2 separate regions of the Homo sapiens genome follow, and region 2 is linked to region 1. Evidence: fine-mapped expression QTL. A gene starts in region 1. The other region holds a variant in brackets. All regions are shown on one strand. Distances are between the middles of the regions. Region 1 holds the start of IKBKB (inhibitor of nuclear factor kappa B kinase subunit beta). Region 2 overlaps IKBKB (inhibitor of nuclear factor kappa B kinase subunit beta).

What was found.
Region 2: its variant is fine-mapped to the expression of IKBKB in whole blood (TOPMed, PIP above 0.99).

Annotation. Positions count from the first base shown.
Region 1 is chr8:42,267,565-42,275,895 of GRCh38, reverse strand. IKBKB (inhibitor of nuclear factor kappa B kinase subunit beta) reads right to left here and starts at 4,594. Exons shown (of 22, transcript NM_001556.3): 1 at 4,427-4,594; 2 at 3,691-3,813. The coding sequence starts at 3,795. It overlaps IKBKB-DT (IKBKB divergent transcript), which reads left to right and starts at 4,646. Exons shown (of 4, transcript NR_185843.2): 1 at 4,646-5,245. RefSeq lists a silencer at 4,314-4,603 and an enhancer at 5,100-5,599.
Region 2 is chr8:42,327,058-42,335,388 of GRCh38, reverse strand. It overlaps IKBKB (inhibitor of nuclear factor kappa B kinase subunit beta), which reads right to left. Exons shown (of 22, transcript NM_001556.3): 21 at 6,175-6,265; 22 at 2,929-4,475. The coding sequence ends at 4,410. Among named protein-coding and RNA genes, the nearest start is that of POLB, 7.3 kb to the left of the region's middle. RefSeq lists an enhancer at 4,251-4,751. The variant A/G (reference allele first, on the strand shown) is at 3,190.

The DNA of each region.
Region 1 (8,331 bases):
CACTCCAGCCTGGTTGACAGAGCAAGACTCCGTCTCAAAAAAAAAAGAAAAACTATAAATAGAACTACCATATGATCCAGCAATCCCACTACTGGGTATCTATCCAAAGGAAAGGAAATCAGTTTATCAAAGAGATATGGGCACCCTCACGTTTACTGCAGCACTATTCACAATAGCCAAAATATGTAATCAACCTAAATGTCCATCAATGAACAAATGAACAAAGAAAATGTGGTACACAGACACAATGTACTCTTATTCAGCCATAAAAAAGAATGAAATCCTGCCATCTGTGGCAACATGGATGAGCTTGGAGGGCATTACATTAAGGGAATTAAGCCAGGCCCAGGGAGATAAATACCACATGTTCTCACTCATCCGTGGGAGCTAATAAAAAACTGATCTCAGTTGGGTAAAGTCTGTTGGCTGACACCTGTAATCCCAGCACTTTGAGAGGCTGAGGTGGGAGGATCACTTGTGTCCAGGAATTCGAGACCAGCCTGGGCAACAGACAGACCTCCTATCTACAAAAAATCAAAAATTAGCCGGGCATGGCAACGCACACCTGTAGTCCCAGCTACTCAGGAGGCCGAGGCAGAAGGATCATTTGAGCCCAGGAGGTCAAGGCTACAGTGAGCCATGATGGCACCACTGCACTCAGCCTGGATGACAGATTGAGACCCTATCTCCAAAGAAATTAAAAATTAAAAAAAAAAAAATGCCAGGCACAGTGGCTCATGCCTGTAATCCCAGTACTTTGGGAGGCCGAGGCAGGCAGATCGCCTGAAGTCAGGAGTTTGAGACCAGACTGGCCAACATGGTAAAACCCTGTCTCTACTAAAAATACAAAAATTAGCCAGGCGTGGTGGTGCACGGCTATAATCCCAGCTACTTGGGAGGCTGAGGCTGGAGAATCGCTTGAACCTGGGAGACACCAGTTGCAGCGAGCCAAGATTGTGCCACTGCACTCCAGCTTGGGCAACAGAGCAAGAATCCATCTCAAAAAACAAAACAAACAAACAAAAAAAAACTGATCTCGTCCAGGCTCGGTAGTTCCCACCTGTAATCCCAGCACTTTGGGAGGCTGGGATGGCGGGGGGGGGGGGGGGCGCGCCGGCGGGGATCACCTAAGTTCAGGAGTTCGAGACCAGCCTGGCCAACATGGTGAAACCCCGTCTCTATTAAAAATACAAAAATTAGCCAGGTGTGGTGGCAGGCACCTGTAATCTCAGCAACTCGGGAGGCTGGGGCAGGAGAATCACTTGAACCTGGGAGGCAGAGGTTGCAGTGAGCCAAGATCGCGCCACTGCACTCCAGCCTGGGCGACAAGAGCAAAACTCCGTCTCAAAACAACAACAACAACAACAACAAACTAATCTCGCAGAAGTAGAAAGTAGAATAGTGGTCACCAGAGGCAGGAAAGGGTGGTGGGGGTGGGGGGAGTTGTGGAGGGAAATAGGGAGAGACTGGTTAATGGGTACAAAATTACGGTTAGGTGGAATAAGTTACAGTATTCTAAAGAACAACAGGGTGACTACAGTGAATAAAACTTTATTGTATATTTCAGGCCGGACGTAGTGGCTCACGCTTGTAATCCAAGCACTTTGGGTGGCTGAGGTGGGCAGATCACCTGAGGTCAGGAGTTTGAGACCGGCATGGCCTACATGGTGAAACCCCATTTCTACTAAAAATACAAAAATTAGCTGGCATGGTGGTGCACACCTGTAATTCCAGGTACTCAGGAGGCTGAGGCAGGAGAATCACTTGAACTCAAGAGGCGGAGGTTGCAGTGAGCCAAGATCACACCACTGCACTCCAGCCTGGGCAACAGTGCGAGACTCTGTCTCCGGAAAAAAAAAAATATTGTATATTTCAAAATAGCCAGAAGAAAGAATTTTGACTGTTTCCAACAAAAAGGATACGTGTTTCAAGTGATGAACACGCCAATTACCCCGATTTGATCATTACACATTATGTATCAAAATATCACACTGTACCCCATAAATATGTACAATTATTATGTGTCAATTAAAAATAAAAACAGGCCAGGTTCAATGACTCATGGCTGTAATCCCAGCACTTTGAGAGGCCAAGGCAGGAAGATCACTTGAGGCCAAGAGTTCTAGACGAGCCTGGACAACATTGTGAGACCACCATCACTACAAAAAATAAAAAAAAAACCTCAGCTGAGGCCAGGTCCCATGGCTCAGGCCTGTAATCCAAACATTTTGGGAGGCAAAGACGGGAAGACTGCTTGAGGATGAGAGTTTGAGACAAGCCTGGGCAACATAGCAAGACCCCATCTCTACAAAATTTAAAAAAATGTTAATTATTTGAAATATGGATTTTCATCATCATTCTAAATGAATTCTCACTTTCATGTGGATCTGCTTATTTTTTGCCGTGCAGTATCGCAAGCAATACTGGGAAGACATCATAATTAGCAAATATTTTAAATATATATATATATATATATTTTTTGAGACAGGGTCTCATTCTGTCACCCAGGCTGGAATGCAGTGACACTATCTCGGCTCACTGCAACCTCTGCCTCCTGGGTTCAAGCGATTCTCCTGCCTCAGCCTCCTGAGTAGCTGAAGTTACAGGCATGCACCACCACACCAGCTAATTTTGTATTTTTAGTAGAGATGAGGTTTCACCATGTTGGCCAGGCTGGTCTCAAACTCCTGACCTCAAGTGATCCTCCTGCCTCGGCCTCCCAAAGTGCTGGGATTACAGGTGTAAGCCACTGCACCCGACATTTAAAATAATTTTTAAAAAATGGTTTTGAAACAAGGTCTCACTCTGTCACCTAGGCTAGAGTGCAGTGGCACAATCATAGCTCACTACAGCCTCAAACTCCTGGACAAGCAATCCTCCCACATCAGCCTCCAATGTAGTGGGACTACAGGTACGCACCAAGGCTGCCTAAGGTTTTTTTTTTTTTTTTTTTTTTGAGACGGAGTCTCACTCTGTTACCCAGGCTGGAGTGCAGTAGCGCAATCTTGGCTCACTGCAACCTCCGCCTCATGGGTTCAAGCGATTCTCCTGCCTCAGCCTCCCAAGTAGCTGGGGACTACAGGCACGTGCCACCAAGCCTGGCTAATTCTTTGTATTTTTAGTAGAGATGGGGTTTCACAGTGTTAGCCAGGATGGTCTCCATCTCCTGACTGCGTGATCCGCCTGCCTCAGCCTCCCAAAGTGCTGAGATTACAGGTATAAGCCACCACGCCCAGCTGGCTGCCTAATTTTTAAACCTTTTTTGTAGAGACGAGGTCTTGCTATGTTGCCCAGGCTGCTCTTGAACTACTGGCCTCAAGGAATTAAAATATTTTAAATTATTTATTTAGTCTCATCCTTTAAATTTTCCTATTTCTATATGTTTTATAACATATAATATCAGTATATATTAGTACATGATATTCTACTGTTACCATATATATATAATAGAGACTAAGAGCTTAACTTTATTTTACTATTTATTTAGGTGACATAGTCAATAAAGCATGGAGACCACTAACCTGGAGTCAGCTCAGAAGTCCTGAAGCCCTCTTCCCAGTCCCCCTATTCACTGTCCCAAGATGACCAAAGCCAAAGGTGAGCCCTTGGCCCAGCAGGATCAGAGAAAGTGGAGGCAGTGAGGAGGGGGCCTGGCTCCCCGCCCCTCCCCAAGCTGCACAGAGGGCCTACCTGATTGTGCCATCGGATGACATTTCCAAATCCCCCTGTCCCAAGGCGCTCTTTCATTTCCCAGGCCCCACATGTCTGCGTTGTCAGGGAAGGTGACCAGCTCATACTGATGTCGTGCTAACTCTATAAGCAATTTGGGATGGGGAAAAAAGGTTAGGATTAAGAAAAAAATGGAGCTCAAAGGGATGGAGAAGGCAAGAGATACCACTGCTCTTGAATGGGAGAGAAGAAAAATACAACTGGTTTTTTATTTTGTAAAGAAACCAATGTGTTTGGTTGGTCCAAACTTTGTGGCAAACTTTTGTCCCTCTCACCCTCCCCCATCCGGTTGCTGTGGCATCAGGCAAGGAAGAAAGTCACCGAGGGAGGCGATGCCCACGCCCTTGCCCTAGCGAGGGGATCCCCAGCTGACTCCACCAGGGGCGCCCGGGCCTGCCCGCCTTCTGCCCGAGGTGGCAGGGGCAGAACCTACTTCTGAGCATCGCCGAGGTCACGTGTTTCTTTACAATGTTCCCATAAATCGCAGGTTCCCCTCAAAGCCACCCACCCCCAAGAAGCCACCCCAGGGAGAGCTGTTTCTCCCGGCTTCCCGAACTCCAACCCGCACAAGTGAAACGCTCCCCAGTCCGCAAGCTGCGACTTCCCAGCGGCACAGAGGGGTCTTCCGGGCCTTGCAGGCAGCGGGGCGGCGGGGCCTGCAGGTGGCACCCGGGCCGCACCCACGAGGGGGACTCACCTGTCGGCAGGGACGCGGGGCAGGGGGCGGGCTCCCCGGGGCGGGGAAGGCGGGGCTGGGGCGGCCAAACCCGGGGCTATGACACCCCCCTGAAAACATTAAAATGCGGGAATCTTAACGCGGGCAGCGCGGCGCGACTTCCTCAAACACTTCCTGCTCTGACGTCACGGAGCACGTTGGCCGCGGCCGCTCTTAAAGAGGCCGCTCCCGGCGCGAGGCAGACCAGGTCCGGATGCTGCGAGTGCTGCGCCTGTCCCGGGACCCTCGACCGGGCGACTCCCCCGGGGCGGGGGTGGCGTGTGGTCTCTAGACAACTGAGGGAAAGTAGACAGACCGTGCTCACCGATTTAAAAGAACAGCCCTGAAATGACCCCCGTTACACCCTGTTCTCTTTAGACAAGTTACTTCCACCTGGAGCGGTTTCTGGGCCCGGGTATGGGGATTTCTTCACCCGGCCCCCTAGGCTTTCACCTCGGTGGAATTTCCCGCGCCCCCGCTGGGATGATTTAGGGACTGTTGGCTAGAACTGCCCTTGCCTACCGCCCTACTGCGGGCGCTCCCCTGTCTGGGGGGTGCTTGGCTGGGTGTGGAGAAGGATCAATCACAGCTGACTCCTCAGAGGTGACAGCCCCTGCCCCCTTAAAAACAAGAAAAGACCTAGCAGTGTGAAGCCAAACTGCACCCCCAGCCCCGGTGACATGAGGAAACCGTGAGGCGCTCAGCCTGAGGTTCATCGTTCATCTCCTTCCTGCTTGGAATCAGAATGTCCTCACTGCTGAGTTTCTCCGTTTTATGGGATTACATTAGTGGACAAAGGAGGTGTGTGTGTGTGTTGCTATATTTTATTCAAGCAGAAAAAAACTACCAAAGGAACCTGAAGATGATAATAATAGCTCACATCTATAGAGTGCTTACACAGTGCAGGGCTCTGTTCTAAATCTCTGTACTTAGATTTCCTTATTCAATCCTCAGGGCAACCCTGTAAATTGGAAAATACTGCATCATCATCATCATTATTATTATTATCTCGCTCTGTCACCCAGGCTGGAGTGCAGTGGTGTGATCACAGCTCAGTGCAACCTCCAACTCCTGGGCTCAAGTGATTCTCCTGACTACAGGTGCGCGGCCGCCATACCTGGTGGCGGGGTCTCACTCACTGTGTTGCCCAGGCTGGTCTCCAACTCCTGGGCTCAAGGGATCCACCCGCCTGGGCTTCCCAAAGTGTTGAGATTACAGGCTGTGAGCCACTGCACCTGGTCTGCATTATTATTATTTCCAAGGTACATGGCTGCTACGTAGATGAGCTGATACTCAAACCCTAGCAACTGGTTCCCGGGTTCTTAATCCGTGGCTAAAAGTAGCATGTTAAGAAGTTCAGAAGGAGGCAAACTGGATTTTGAATCCAGATACTGCTGTTGACTACCTCTGAGGCACGGGGGCTGGTTACTTAAACACTGTGAGAACCTATTTCCTCTTTTAAAATTTAGGCAATATTAGGTTGAATTGCATTTAATTGTCATTTTTTGGAAATTGAAAACAGCCAAAACATCAGTAACAAAGATCAGCAGTTTCATCTGCTTCATTGTAATAGCAGGGGGACAGGCGGGCTCATAGAAAGTCATAGAAAGGAGGCCACCCCAGAGTTGTTGTGAGGGACAAATGAGGTATTGATAGCAGCAGTGCCTGACAGCCCTGGGGTTGAAGTTAACTCAGGGACAGATCTCAACCCAAACATAGGGGTCAATGGTGTCCAGGGCTGTGCTAGGCACGCTGGCTGCTCGGTTTCTCCCCTCTCCCCTCTTCCCTCTCCTTTCTCTTTTTCTTTCTCTCTCTCTCTCTTTTCCTTCCTTCCTTCCCCCTCCCCTCTCCTCCCCTCCCCTCCACTCCCCTCCCCTTCCCTTCCCTTCCCGGCTACTTGGTTTCTTTCTTTTCCTTCTTTTCCTTCCTTCCTATCTCTCCTCCTTCCTTCCTTCTTTCCTTCTTTCCTTTCCTTTTCCTCCCCTCCCCTCCCCTCCCCTCCCCTCCCCTCGCTTCCCCTCCCCTTCCCTTCCCAGCTGCTAGCTTTCTTTTTTTTCTTTCCTTTCTTTCTTCCTTTCCTTTCCTTTCTTCCTTTCCTTTCCTTTTCTTTCCTTTTCTTTCTTTTTTCTTTCTTGACAGGGCCTTTCTCTATCGCCCACTTTGGAGTATAGTGGCAGGATCACGGCTCACTGCAGTCTTGACCTCCTGGGTTCAAGGGGTCCTCCCGCCTCAGCCTCCCCACTAGCTGAGATTACAGGCACGTGCCACCATGACCAGCTAATTTTTAAATTTTATTTTGTTGACATGGGGGTCTCACTATGTTGCTCAGACTTGGCTTGAACTCCTGGCCTCAAAGCAATCCTCCCGCCTTGGCCTCCCTAAGTGCTGGGATTACAGGTGTGAGCCACCGCTTCTGGCCTGGTATTTCTTGATTACTCCCAGCTAAATGGCAAGCTCAGCCTCAAGGCCAGAAGCAACAGGAACATGAGTAAATAGTTGTAACACACGTAGAATAGTGACTGCATTGTCTAAGTGCAATATAAGTGTTTGCTTAATAAGTAAATTTTTTAAATAAAATATTTATTGGCCAGGTGAGGTGGCTCATGCCTGTAATCCCAGCACTTTGGGAGGCCAAGGTAGGCAGATCACTTGAGGTCAGGAATTTGAGACCAGCCTGGCCAACATGGTGAAACCACGTCTCTACGAAAAATACAAAAATTAGCTGGGCGTGGTGGCAGGTGCCTATAATCCCAGCTACTTGGGAGGCTGAGGCAGGAGAATCACTTGAACCCAGGAGCTGGAGGTTGCAGTGAGTGGAGATCGCACCAGTGCACTACAACGTGGGCGACAGAGCGAGACTCCATCTCAAAAAAAAAAATTTGGCCGGGTGTGGTGGCTCACCCCTGTAATCTCAGCACTTTGGAAGGCCGAGGCAGGCAGATCACTTGAGGTCAGGAGTTCAAGACTAGCCTGGCCAACATAGTGAAACCCCGTCTCTACTAAAAATACAAAAATTAGGCCAGGCACAGTGGCTTACACCTGTAATGCCAGCACTTTGGGAGGCCAAGGCGGGCAGATCACGAGGTCAGGAGATCAAGACCATCCTGGCCAATATGGTGAAACGCCATCTCTACTAAAAATACAAAAAAATTAGCTGGGCGTGGTGGCACGTGCCTGTAATCCAAGCTACTCGGGAGGCTGAGGCAGGAGAATCGCTTGAACCCAGGAGGCAGAGGTTGCAGTGAGCCGAGATCGTGCCATTGCACTCCAGCCTGGGCGACAAGAGCAAAACTCCATCTAAAAAAAAAAAAAAAAAAAAAAATTATTGAGCACCTATATGTGCTGGGCACTGTGGAGAGTCCATTTCCAGTACAATGTCATAAAAGGTTTCTCTTTAATCCTGTCATCTCTGAAAAACACTGTCCTGAGAAACTTACCAAGATGTCCGCTAATATGCCAAAAGTTTACTCTGCGCTCCTGTAATTTGAATCCTCATTTTGCTCAGCTCAAAATAACTTGGCTTTCAACTGAACATAAATCTCTCTGATAAGGTCACGTATTACTAGGCTTTTTTTTTCTTCAATTAATCATGGACCAGGAAGGGGCCTCTGGGTTTTATCATATTCCAAGATATTTATTATCTTAAGCTCAATTTTCTATCCAGATAAGACATGTTTAGCTATCTCTGCCTGCATCTGGTTTCTGTCCTGCTCTGGAGATATGAGCAGACTGTTTACAAAAGATATTTTCAGATTCAGCAGAAAAATGTCCCCTTTTCTTCCTGCTTTGAGGCTGAGTGTGCTTTTTAGCTGTGCTATAGGGAAATCAAGAAATACTGACCAGCCAGAGTGCCTAGCTCAGCCCAGGGCATTACTGACCCAGGGGAT
Region 2 (8,331 bases), 59 kb before region 1:
ATACATGTGCCTGCTCAGCATTGTCCCCTCATTGTATGGTTCTTTCCCTGGCTGCCTTCTTCTCATCATTCAGGTCCCAGCCTGGCAGTCACACCCTTGTCACGTTCCTGGACCAGGCCCAGGTTTTTACTTGTGTGTTTCCTTCACAGTACTAAGAAGGACTGGAAATATTCACACGTGGTTGCACATTATGCACTCCCTGCTCACTCCTCCTCCCACCAATGTGCAATGCCAGCTCCACGGGAGAAGGGACTTAATTTTTGTTTCCACGTAAGTACTCAATAAAGTTAATAACTTAAATTGCAGTTTTGCTGAAGTGTCAAACACGGCCACCTGTAATCCCAGCACTCTGGGAGGTGGAGGCAGGAGGATCGAGCCCAGGAGTTCAAGACCAGACTGGGCAACATGGCGAGACCCCATCTCTTTTACAAAAATAAGAAAAATGTACTGGGTGTGGTGGCACGAAGAGATGAAGCATGGGACTCTTGGACTCATTCAACCATCTCAGTAGAAGTCAGGAATAGAGATGGGATTATCCCAGAAAATTTGTGGAGGACCCTCTTGTCTAATGGCATTGAACTCCATGACATTACACAGGGGACCCACAAGATTTTTGAGAATGTTACATCAGCAGAGACAGCTTAGCCTGGAAGTGACAGAGACAGTGTGAAATGAGAAAAGGCTGTTGAAATCCAAACTGCTACGGGCAAGAAATGGGCTGATAGAGCTACTGGGCTGCAAACATGCGATCCTTCAAGAAAAAGCAAGAATGACTCCAAGGGCAGAGCCAGGGGCACAGAGGCAGAGGCCAGAGGAGCAGACAGAAGTGATGGATGCAGAGACACAGGCCTATGAGGTCACTGTGAGCACAGACTCAGAGGCCTATGGAGCCACCATGGGTACAGAGAGGCCCATGGTTCTGCTGTGAGCAGACACAAAGGTCTGCACAACTGTTGTGGGCCCAGTGGGCGGCACTTCAAGCTAGGGAATTATTTGCAGGCCTTGAATCCTAATGGAATTTTCTCTGCTAGATCAAAATTGGTTGGGAATGGTGACTTCTTTATCCCTTCCAATTTTCCCTTTCAGAATGAGAACATCTATCATATGCCTATTACATCATTTTAAATAAATTTATTTATCCAAATTCCAAAGTTATTTGGAAGCTGATAACCTGTAGTATCACAGGTCCACAGCCAGAGAAATTTAATCCTAAAATGAATCATGCACGGGGTCTCACCCACATCTGACTTAGATGATGAGATGCAGGACTTCTGAGCTAATATATAGATGCAAATTTGGTCTTAGTTCATGCTGTATGAGTTGAGACTTTGGGAGATGTTGGGAGGAATAAATGTCTTTTTCATGTAGGACAAATATGGATTTTGGGGTGCCAGAGGGTGGACTGTAGTGGGCTGAATGGTGGCCCCCAAGAAGATGTCCACATCATAATCTCCAGAGCCTGTGAACATTACCTCATATGGCAAACTGTGATTACATGAAACATCTTGAGACAAAGTGCTTACCCTGGATTTTTCAAATTGGCTCTAAATCCAATGGCAAGTATTCTTGTAAGAGATACACAGCAGAGATGTGACAGAGAAAGCGGCAGCAATATGACCCAGGGGCAGAGATGCAGTCACAAGCCAAGGATTGCCTAAAGCCAACAGAAGCTGGACGCCACCAGGGATAGAACCTCCCTAGAGCCTTCAGAAGAGGTGTGATCCTGTTCACACCTTTATTTCAGACTTCTGGCCTCCGGAACTGGGAGAGAATAAGTTTCTGTCATTTAAGCCACCAAAGTTGTGGTAACTAGCTAGGGCAGGTCTAGGAAACTAACGCAGGTAGAGAGAGCAGGCTTTCTTGTCTGTGCCCATTGGTTGGCTTCTCCAGCACTCATATCTTTTTTTTTTTTTTTTTTTGAGACAGAGTCTTGCTCTGTCACCCATGCAGTGGCATGATCTTGGCTCACTGCAACCTCCGCCTCCCGGGTTCAAGCGATTCTCCTGCCTCAGCCTCCTGAGTAGCTGGGATTACAGCCGCATGCCACCACACCCGGCTAATTTTTGTATTTTTAGTAGAGGCGGGGTTTCACCATGTTGGTCGGGCTGGTCTCAAACTCCTGACCTCCTGATCCGCCCGCCTTGGCCTTCCGAAGCCAGCACTCAACCTTGAGACAAAAAGAAAAGCCACGGAATAACTACCAGAGTCCTTCCTCAGATCCCAAGGTCCAGGGATAGTCTTCCGTCTTATCTCTACCTTTCAGAGTCTTGTGTTTGTTTATGTGACCAAGGAGTTTAGCTGTACTTACTGAGAGGAAAAAATGTATCTATCTAATCTTTTTGGAAGCAGACATACTAACTCCTGGATTTTCACTTTTTTTTTTTTTTTTTGAGACAAAGTTTCGCTCTTTTTGCCCAGGCTGGAGTGCAATGGCACAATCTCTGCTCACTGCAACCTCTGCCTCCTAGGTTCAAGCGATTCTCCTGCCTCAGCCTCCCGAGTAGCTGGGATTACAGGCATGTCCCACCACGCCTGGCTTTTGTATTTTTAGTAGAGACGGGGTTTCTCCATATTGGTCAGGCTGGTCTCGAACTCCCGACCTCAGGTGATCTGCCTGCCTCAGCCTCCCAAAGTGTTGGAATTACAGGCGTGAGCCACCGCGCCCGGCCTGGATTTTCACTTTTTAATCAATTACACTGTTTCAGCCATAAACTTTTTTTTTTTCCATTTTTTTTCTTTCTTTTCACAACTTGTCCTGTAACTGAACAGCCATAAACTTTTAAAATGACTGCTTTGGTTGGCATTTTCTTCGTCAAAATTCTTCAGTGGCTCAGTTGCCTGTAACATAAGCTCACAGCCCTTAGCCCAACATCCTTTCCCTCCCCAATCTGCCCGTCCTTGCCTTTCGGGTGTTATTTCCCACTGTCATTTACCAGGGTTTCCAAAATTGTGCTTTATTAAATGCTAGTTCATTGGAATGTTAATACATGTTTCACACACACAATCAGCAGGAGAAAATGTTTCTATAGCCAAATGACATTGATAAACAGTGTTCTTACACAAAGTTAAGCCTGTTTCTTTATTATAAGACTTTTCAGATACTTTCCCAGTGCATAGTGTGAATCTCCACAAAGCAAGTGAAACATGAATAGCTCCCTAAACTTACTTGACCACAGAATGCTTCATTCT[A/G]TCTCCATGGAAACCACTTGTGAAAGTCTCCTACTCCAACTTTCTTCTCCAACAAAACTCACCTGTTTGTGATCATCTGAACTCATTTTGTGCTCTTGCCTTTATATAAAAGAGAAGTTCTGTGAAATGTTGAAGAAGCAGGGTTATGGCACTAGTAATGATCCAGGCACTATACAAATTGTTAAAATTTTCCATTATTTTAGTTCAGAAGCCCTAACCATAGGTATTCTAACAGTGGATTGTGGAACCCAGTATGAGTGTTTGAGACATGTTACAAAATATAGGAGCTATTTTTAAAATGAATCCATTTAATAATACTGCTAGATGCTGTGAGAGACAGGGACTCCCCGGCCCAGCACACACGCTTGAGCAGGAATGGAGACATGGGCATGGGTAGGCAGGCTGGTGGTCAGCAGATACCCTTTCTGTCCCTCCTCTGTGACAATCACCCCCAAGTAATTTTTGGGATTCAGAATAAGGCAGCTGCTCTCCCATCCTGGTTACTATGAGTCGCTCTTGGCAGAAAGGACCACAGATGGAGAGCTTGGCACTCGCTCCAACTTTGCCGAAAAGAGGACAACCACCAAAGTAGTAGGTAAAAACACAATTTTAGCAGCAGTGAAATAAAAAGAGGAAGTGAGGATGGGGCCAGGCCGCAACTATAATTAAACTGTCTGTTTAGGAGAAGCTGAATCCAGAAGAAACACAAGCTGTAAAGTGAGAGAGGACAGGGAGCAGGGCCTTTGGAGAGCAGGAGAGGACAGGCTGTCACCAAGCGCTGCTCGGACTCTGCCCTGAAAGATTTGAATTGGACACTGTCCAGTCACGTGTGTGGCAAACCGTACTCCAAGCACTTTTCTCACGGCAGAGGAAGGAGCTGCCATGGCTGTACCCCTGAACGTTTGTGGGGCCAGCGATGTGCGCTGGGCCTCTGTAATGGAGGACCTCCAGTGTGCAGACAAGGCGCCGGCAGTGCCCACGGAGGGCTGCGTCCTGGGTCCTGGGTGAAAGTCACAGCTGCTGAGGAAGCGAGAGCTCCATCTGGATACCAGAGACCCCTGGGCCATCAGTGCAGCAGGAACCACCATGTGAGAGCCGCGGCCAGGCAGCCCCACGTCACGCGGCCTGCTCCAGGCAGCCCCATGTCAGGGGGTCGAGTCCCCCCACTGCACAAGGCCTGCTATGGGCTGCCCCATGTCAGGGGGTCGAGTCCCCCCACATCATGAGGCCTGCTCCAGGCAGCTGTGCTCTTCTTCTTCCGTCTGTAACCAGCTCCAGTCTAGGGCCTGAAAGTCAACAGACATGTTAAAAAAACAACAGCCACCAACACATTTCAGGTTATTTTTCCTCTTCAGGAGGAAATCAGGACAATTGAGAAATATACTAAAACCCAGCCAGGCACAGTGGCTCATGCCTATAATCCCAACACTTTGGGAGGCCAAGGTGGGCAGATCATGAGGTCAGGAGTTCGAGACCAGCCTGGCCAAAATGGTGAAACCCCATTTCTACTAAAAATACAAAATTAGCCAGGCGTGGTGGCAAGCTCCTATAGTCCCAGCTACTCAGGAGGCTGAGGCAGGAGAATCACTTGAACCTGGGAGGTAGGGGTTGCAGTGAGCTGAGATCGTGCCATTGCACTCCACCCTGGGCAAAAGAGCAAGACTCCATCTCAAAAAATAAAAAATAAAAAGAAATATATTGAAACCCCTTTATTGGCTGGGTATGGTGGCTCATGCCTATAGTTCCAGCACTTTGGGAGGCAGAGGCGAGCGGATCGCTTGAGGCCAGGAGTTCAAGACCAGCCTGGGCAACATAGCAAGACCCAGGCTGCATAAAACAAATAAATTAAACAAATACAAATTAAAAAGCCAAACCCTTTTATTAATAAATCTTGTGACTGCAGGGTACTCTTAAGCTAAGTTACATATTCAAACTGTACAGGATCTTTTCTTTGAATTGGCTCAGAGTCCTTGAGATTCTGTGACTGTGGGAATTAGAAAGTCGACGTCAGTACCACTGTGGCTCACAGCACTCACTCCCATGCTCACTGTGGGTAGCTAATCTCAGTTATGGATTTCCAGCCTCACCACATGACTTGGCCTGATGAGACTTCCTCTTCCTCCCACAGACATGCAAGTAAGCAATGAACTGATCAAAACATTATCATGCCAGGAGGAGGAGAGCAGCAAGAGATATAGAATGTCCACAGACTGGAGGAGGACATGCGACTACATCAGCAAAGGCTGCAATTCACAGTGGTATCCCTTGTAATTCTTCCAAAAGCTTAAAGTTAGGGGAGGTTAGCAAGTGATTAGCAGGTAAAGGCCATGTAAAGATCTAAGCAAATGATGCAGGATTCTCTCAACAATGGAAGCTTTGTCTTAATGTACCTGTAACTTGGCTAGTTTTCTCATAACTAGTACTACCTACCACTAAGCTCCAAGGCCCTGAGGACAAGGCCATGGCTGGTTCCTGCTCCCAGCCCAGCACTCAACACACAAATACTCAGCAGTAGTACCAATGGTGCAGGTGGGGACAGGCTTCTGGGAACAATGCTACCTTCTTCCTCATCATCGGAATTAAGTGTTCCAAGGATTAAATAAGATAATGCATACATGTAGTTGTAAGCCTTCAATAATTGTTAGACATCACTATTATTATGAATAATAAAAAATGTGTACTAGAAAATTATAAATATACACTGAAAAAATCAGCTGAATGTGGTGACGCACGCCTGTAGTCCCAGCTACTCAGGAGGCTGAGGCATGAGAATCACTTGAACCCGGGAAGCGGAGGTTGCAGTGAGCCAAGATCATGCCACTGCACTCCAGCCTGGGTGAGAGAGAGAGACCCTGTCACAAATAAACAAGCAAACAAACAAACACTGAGGTTGAGGATAATGCCAGATTGCATTTCCATTTTCTCTTCTATTTTGCCATAGAAAGAAAGGACATGGAATCGCAGGAGTCTCACACAAGCTGTTACCGTGAAACTCTGGTCTTGTTCCCTCACAGTGTCCTGTATGGCATTTTCTAGCAGGGTGCAGAGGTTATGTGCTTCAGCCACCAGTTCTTCACTAAAGAAAATGATCAAATTATTAGAAAGTGGTCATTATTAGTTATCAGAGCTAACACTGCTATTTTAAAATATGCTAGAGAGTTTTGATAATACTTTTTAAATGAAGTAACAATTATTTTGATCCTGAGTGTCTTAAAACACCAACCCACTGACTAATACTTTCATTCATCTTGTTATGCACTTTCCACATATGAGCGTTACTGTCCAAAATGCAAAAAAGCAAACAGATCTCAATAAAAGTCAGAAGCAAAAAAACCTCTTTCTGCTTTCTGACTTACTAGATAGCTGAATTTAATTTTCAAACTGCCAAAATCTAAAGATATTCTCCAAATCACCTGTTTTCCAATTTTTGAAGTAGACAAAAAAAAGGCCAAGGAATTTATCAGGATTCACAGTTCCTTGGAATCTGTTGAAAATCAAGTTCTGGGATTTGGTTTCATCTAATCTGATCTCTCTCTTTTCTATAATAAGAAACCCATGTTTCCTCTGAGGACTGGGCCACAGTGAAAAAGAGCAGCATGTAGTAAAACATCCGTCTTTTTCTAACCTCAGCTCTATGCTGTGGGGAGACGAGAGACATCCTATATACCCAGGTCCACCTTTCTAGACCTTTGAGGACATCACTGAAGGGAATAAGCCACATAAAGGAAGACTGCCCTGGAACTCCTCTCACTCTGCAAAATGTGACAATCTGATGGCAGGAGCTCAGAGCACATTTCTGCCAAGCCTCATCTATGGGGCCTCTAGCTAGCCTAAAGGCTCAGTGCCTGCCCCAGAAGGGAATGGAACAGGCTCCCGGTCTAGCTACTATACTCCAGGAGCTCATGAGAGGTTGGGGAAATAATTTTTATTTAAAAAAAAAAAAAAAAAAAAAGGGCCGGGTGCGGTGGCTCACGCCTGTAATCCCAGCACTTTGGGAGACCAAGGCGGGCGGATCACCCAAGGTCGGGAGTTCGAGATCAGCCTGACCAACAGGCTGGAGAAACCCTGTCTCTAATAAAAATACAAAATTGGCCGGGCGCGGTGGCTCACGCCTGTAATCCCAGCACTTTGGGAGGCCGAGGCGGGTGGATCATGAGGTCAGGAGATCGAGACCATCCTGGCTAACAAGGTGAAACCCCGTCTCTACTAAAAATACAAAAAATTAGCCGGGCGCGGTGGCGGGCGCCTGTAGTCCCAGCTACTCGGGAGGCTGAGGCAGGAGAATGGCGTGAACCCGGGAAGCGGAGCTTGCAGTGAGCCGAGATTGCGCCACTGCAGTCCGCAGTCCGGCCTGGGCAACAGAGCGAGACTCCGTCTCAAAAAAAAAAAAAAATACAAAATTAGCCAGGCCTGGTGGCTCATGCCTGTAATCCCAGCTACTCGGAAGGCTGAGGCAGGAGAATCGCTTGAACCCAGGAGGCTGAGTTTGAGGTGAGCTGAGATCGTGCCATAGCACTCCAGCCTAGGCAACAAGAGCGAAACTCCATTTCAAAAAAAAAAAAAAAAAGGCTGGGTGCAGTGGCTCATGCCTGTAATCCCAGCACTTTGGGAGGCTGAGGCAGGTGGATCACAAGGTCAGGAGATTGAGACCATCCTGGCTAATACGGTGAAACCCCATCTCTACTAAAACTACAAAAAATCAGCCGGTTGTGGTGGCATGCACCTGTAGTCCCAGCTACTCGGGAGGCTGAGGCAGAAGAATCACTTGAACCTGAGAGGTGGAGGTTGCAGTGAGCCAAGATCGCGCCACTGCACTCCAGCCTGGGCAACAGAGCAAGAGTCTGTCTCAAAAAAAAAAAAAAAAAAAAAGAGAGAGAGAGAGACAGTCTCACCATGTTGCCCAGGAGACTTGCCTCGAACTCCTGCGAACCTCCTGCCTTGGCCTCCCAAAGTGCTAGGATTACAAGCGCGTGCCATACAGCCAAGAGAAAATTAAGTATCCAAGGTCACATAAACACCAAAAGAGGCTACAAACTCCCAAGGACAAGAACAAGATTCTTCAAAGCAGACTGTATTGAGATATAATTTATATACCATAAAGCTCACCCATTTAAAGTGTACAATTCAAGGGTTTTCGCGTAT